Regions from separate parts of the Homo sapiens genome. Here region 2 is linked to region 1. A link means that fine-mapping ties the variant in region 1 to the expression of a gene that starts in the linked region. Tissue or cell type: whole blood. Region 1 holds a variant in brackets; the other region holds the start of a gene. All regions are shown on one strand. Distances are between the middles of the regions.

What was found.
Region 2: EIF4B starts here. The variant in region 1 is fine-mapped to the expression of EIF4B in whole blood (INTERVAL, PIP above 0.99).

The regions. Positions count from the first base shown.
Region 1 is chr12:53,031,503-53,034,312 of GRCh38, forward strand. It overlaps EIF4B (eukaryotic translation initiation factor 4B), which reads left to right. Exons shown (of 15, transcript NM_001417.7): 9 at 2,304-2,532. Among named protein-coding and RNA genes, the nearest start is that of TNS2, 17 kb to the right of the region's middle. The variant T/C (reference allele first, on the strand shown) is at 1,399.
Region 2 is chr12:53,004,901-53,007,710 of GRCh38, forward strand. It overlaps EIF4B (eukaryotic translation initiation factor 4B), which reads left to right and starts at 1,556. Exons shown (of 15, transcript NM_001417.7): 1 at 1,556-1,596. The coding sequence starts at 1,584. RefSeq lists enhancers at 927-1,670, 1,671-2,414.

The sequences.
Region 1 (2,810 bases):
CAAGTTCAAGTGATCCACTTGCCCTCGGCCTACCAAAGTGCTGGGATTACAGGCGTGAGCCACTGTGCCCGGCTGCGTTCTTTTATTAATATCTTAAATGAGCTACTTTTTCTGAGCCCCTATTTTATCTTACAAAAGTGACGGGGCTATAACACAGATTTAAAATATGTTTAGGAACATATATAAACTGTCGGCTTAAAGCCCTCGTAGAAAATTTAGATCTTGTTAAACAGTACCCTCTATCTACAGGTACTATGTGCATATGTAGTAAAAGTATAAAATCAAGTGTGGGCATGATGAAGTCACCATCTAGTGGTTATTTAGAGGACAGAGTACAGCTGGTCATGTCATCAGGAGGTTTTACCTCTTTGTTAAGGTTACATTACTTAAGCCAGGTGATTGTATACATAGGCTTTCTTTATATTCTCTGTATCTTTTGTATATCCAAAATATTTAGGACAAACAATCATTTTTAGAAATTTAACTTCCTTGAAACACTTAGGTTTCTCTTGAAAGTGTTCTGACAACTTGAATTGAGGAAGAAATCAGACTGCCTGCCTTAAGAGTTTATTTGTTCAGTGTTACATGCTTTGCCCCATGAACCACCTGCCAAATTTATATTATACACAGAGACAAGGGTATAAGATCTAGAGTCTTCCTGGCTGGGCGTGGTGGCTCACATCTGTAACAGCACTTTGGGAAGCCAAGGCAAGCGGATCACTTGAGGTCGGGAGTTCAAGACCAGCCTGGCCAACATGGTGAAGCCCCATCTCTACTAAAAATACAAAAATTAGTTGGGCATGGTGCCACGTGCCTATACTCCCAGCTACTGAGGAAGCTGAGGCAGGAAAATCAGGGAGGCAGAGGTTGCAGTGAGTTGAGATCACACCACTGCCCTCCAGCCTGGGTGACAGAGCGAGACTGTCTCAAAAAAAATAAAGAACTAGAATCTTCCCTATCATATTGTATTAGTTCTTAACATGCAGATTTCGGAGCAAGATACTTTCATCCAGTAGTTTAATGATGGTCAAAAATTTCTTCCCATATAAAAGAAGTCTTGATAGATTATTAATTTATTACTTAAATGTTTACCATTTTTAGTCTTTCCTGTGGTCTTGTACTACATCATGGATGTGGTAGAAGAGTAATTGAACTTGGGTTTTTTTGTTTTTTTTTTTTTTTGAGATGGAGTTTGGCACTTGTTGCCCAGTTTGGAGTGCAGTGGTGTGTTCTCAGCTCACTGCAACCTCCGCCTCCCCGGTGGGTTCAAGCGATTCTCCTGCCTCAGTCTCCTGAGTAGCTGGGACTACAGGCATGTGCCACCACTCCTGGCTAATTTTGTATTTTTAGTAGAGATGGGGTTTCTCCATATTGGTCAGGCTGGTCTCGAACTCCTGA[T/C]CTCAGGTGATCCGCCCGCCTCAGCCCCCCAAAGTGCTGGGATTACAGGCGTGAGCCATTGCGCCCGGCCAGAACTTGGTTATTTATGCCACCTATTTTTATTTTTATTTATTTTTATTTATTTATTTTAGGCGTAGTTTTGCTTTTGTTTTCCAGCCTGGAGGGCTGGAGTGCAGTGGTGCGATCCTGGCTCACCACAACCTCTGCCTCCCAGGTTCAAGCGATTCTCCTGCCTCAGCCTCCCGAGTAGCTGGGATTATAGGCATGCACCACCATGCCTGGCTAATTTTTTATTTTTACTAGAGACGGGGTTTCTCCATGTTGGTTGTGTTGGTCTCGAACTCCCGACCCCAGGTGATCCACCCGCCTCGGCCTCCCAAAGTATCGGGATTACAGACGTGAGCCACCACGCCCAGCCTGAGCTACCTATTTTCTTTTTTTTTTTTCTTTTTTTTATTTTTGAGACGGAGCCTTGCTCTGTCACCAGGCTGAAGTGCAGTAGCTCGATCTTGGCTCACTGCAACCTCTGCCTCCCAGGTTCAAGCAATTCTCTTGCCTCAGCCTCCTGAGTAGCTGGGACTACAGGTGCGCGCCCCAACGCCCAGCTAATTTTTGTATTTTTAGTAGAGACGGGGTTTCACCATGTTGTCCAGGATAGTCTCGATCTCTTGGCCTTGTGATCCACCCGCCTCGGCCTCCCAAAGTGCTGGGATTACAGGCGTGAGCCACCATGCCCAGCCTAAACTACCTGTTTTCTAATGATCTATTTGCCTTCTGTGGATTGGTTAGGCCACTAACTTGAATCTCATGTAGCATTTCATAGGAGTTATATCTGAGAAATCTGGCTTTCAGCCATCAGCTTCTGGTGATTGGAAAACTATTACTTAAAGTTTCATTTAACTTAGGTCCCCCCCAAAGACCCAAACTGAATCTAAAGCCTCGGAGTACTCCTAAGGAAGATGATTCCTCTGCTAGTACCTCCCAGTCCACTCGAGCTGCTTCTATCTTTGGAGGGGCAAAGCCTGTTGACACAGCTGCTAGAGAAAGAGAAGTAGAAGAACGGCTACAGAAGGAACAAGAGAAGTTGCAGCGTCAGCTGGATGAGCCAAAACTAGAACGACGGCCTCGGGAGAGGTGTGTTGTCTTGATGGATATCCCATCTAGGAATCCGGTGGTTCGTAATGGGGGCATTACATCCCCAGGGGCATTTGGGAAATTTGTGTCGTTATCACATTAGTGGTTGTCACTGATGGGCATTTAGTGGGCTGTGGCCAGGGGTGTTAGGCAGTATGCAGTGTTAGGGACAGTTTTACACAATGAAGAGTTGTTCCCTGTCCATTACAAAAGTGTTTACTATTAAAAGCTGGTATTGTATCTAAAAGGCTAGAGACCTACTATAATAAGTAATTGCC
Region 2 (2,810 bases), 27 kb before region 1:
TTTAGACCTCTGTCTGAATGTCACTTCCTCAGAGGTCTACTCTGACAGGCAATCTAAAGTTGCACCTAATAACTTATTACACCACCTTGTTTTAATTACTCACAGAATACTTGTTGTAATATTTTATTAGTTGCTTATTATCTGTCCTTCCCCCACTAGAATATAACCTCTTTTGGGACAGTTCTATTCCATGTTGTACCCGCAAGTGTCTGTGCCTGGCACACGGTGGGAAACAAAAATTTTCATTTAATGAATGAAATGGAACATCAGCTAGGGGAAGCATGAATAGCCCTAGTCTCAGAAATCCTAAAGGCCTAAGTTGGACTAAACCTAGTCAGCAAATTGGACCATTAAATGAGGTAAAAGCCCATGACAATTAAGTGTTCAGCATTTGTTACCTTCTTATTCCGTCTAAATATGCCTCATTAAAACCATTCTTACACAAGACGTTCGATTTGTTTTGCCTTTACAAAAAGTAATTTGAAAACAAACAGTGGTTGATGCCTGTAATCCCGGCACTGTGGGAGGCCTCGGAGGGAGGAATGCTTGAGTCCAGGAGTTCGAGACCAGCCCAGGCGACACAGGGAGACACACCGCCCCCCCCAAGCCCGCCACTCTGTCTCCACACAAAGACTTTTTTTTAATTAGCTGGTCCTGGAGGCACTCGCCTGTGGTCCCAGCTACTCAGGAGGCTGAGGTGGAAGAACTGCTTGAGCCCCGGAGGTTGAGGCTGCAGTGAGCCGAGATCGCGCCACTGCACTCCAGCTTGGGAGACAGGGCGAGACCCCGTCTCAAAAAATAAAAATAAATAAAAATAAAATCAGTGATTTCTGATGTGGCTTTTAAAAACTAGGCCGGGCGCGGTGGCTCACGCCTATAATCCAGCACTTTGGGAGGCCGAGGCGGGTGGATAGCCTGAGACCAGGAGTTCAAGACCAGCATGGCCAATATGGTGAAATATCCCGTTTCTACTAAAAATACAAAAAACTAGCAGCGAATGGTGGTGGGCGCCTGTAATCCCAGCTACTCCAGAGGCTGAGGCAGGTGAATCGCCTGAACCCGAGAGGCGGGGGTTGCAATGAGCCGAGGTCGCGCACGCCATTGCACTCCAGCCCGGACAACAGGAGCGAAACTCCGTCTCAAAAAAGTACATTAAACTCAGAATCTTCCCTTTCAGCACATCCATTTCGCCACACCCATCACCGGCTCCGTGCAGAGTAAGCAGAAGCAGCAGCGAAGCCCCGCCCTTCCCGCCACTCTTCCGGCAGGAAGTCTGTGCGTCAGGAGGCCGGCCAGGACTCAGCTCCAGCCCCGCGCTCGCGTGTAGCCCTACGTAAAGCGTGAGGGGTTTCGCGACAACCCAGGCCCCGCCCCTTTGGCCACATGTCGCGCATGTCTTCCCGTCGGACGGCGTGCCACCTCGCCGCGCAGCTTTACGAACCTAGAGCAGCGCCGCCCCGCCTCCTGTCTCCGTCCTCACCTCCCCGCCCCCTCCCAGCTTCGCGTCTCCTAGCTCGACGCGCCCGCTATAATCACGTGATTGCCTCATCCGGGTCTTTTGCGTTCTCTTTCCCTCTCCCAACATGGCGGCCTCAGGTGAGCGAGCAGCCGAGCGCGGCCAAGGACTGGGCTCTGAAACCCCCCTCCGAGCGTGATCCACTGATTTCCTGAAGTCGGGGAATTGCTGGCACTGGTTCCTTTCTGAATTGAGGGCTGCGGCAGGCTGGCGGCGTGGCCCTGTTAGGTTACTGCCTCTGGATGTTTGGGGGGGAGGGGAAGGACACCTTCCCCTCCCCCTCACACTCTTTTCACCCTTTCTGCGCGAGATTGGAATAGGCAGTAATGGTAGACTCTGGCTTGAATTGGGGAAGGAGGCGCAGAAAGGTGTGCGGGTGGTGCGAGGCCTTTTCGTAGACGTGAATCACCGTGCCCGCGTGAAGGCGTGGAGGAAGGAAGGAGGCGGTTGCTGCGCGGACGAGTGCACATTAGACTACGTCTCCAAGGCGCGAGGCTGTAGCGGACCGGAGTGGGGGGTAGGGGAGTAAGTGTGGTGGGGGGGAGCAGTTGGAACGCGAGCGCGAGTTGGTGGAGGGGCGGGGGAAGGCAGCGGTGCGCGTGCGCGGTAGGAGACACGAGGGTAGTAGAGACGGGCGCGCCTTCAATGCGTGCGCTAGAACCCAGATGGGAAGCTTTTTAACGCGCCTGTGTTGCGCACTTATGTCCTTTTAGGTTGTCTCTTCCCTTTCTAGAGTGTGGGCCCTGTGCCTGTATTCTTCTAAGGGTGTGTGTGTTAGCCTTGGAGGTTGGTGCTATTGGCGTTAGATGGGGGTGGGGAATCCAGTTAGGTGCGCCCACGTGTTGGAGAAGCACCGGTGTGCACCTAGATTTCCTTCTAGGCTTTTTTCTCATACTCAATTGGAGGCATTTTTTACTCAGCGCAGCTATATGCCAGGATCAGGTTTCGCTTCCGGCGCTTCCATGTTGGTTGAATTTGGATAGCTCCAATGGTAGATTTCAGCCTTTTTTTTTTTTTTTTTTTTTTTTTTTTAAGGTAACTGTGCAACTACCAGCAGGTACTTTTAAAATAGTGCTTACTAATGGCTGGAGTTGCTTACTTCTTTAGACAACCTTGGAGGGGAGTATCAGTGCCTTGCAAGTCTAATTACATTTCTAATGGGCTTATAAAAGCAGTGATGACCCAACATCTTGTAGCATTGATTTTAGTTTGAGGAATATAGTTTGTTTTCTCTGGCATGACCTTGCATTCTTCAAAACATTATTTGAACTTCTATCTCTGGGTGCTCATTTCT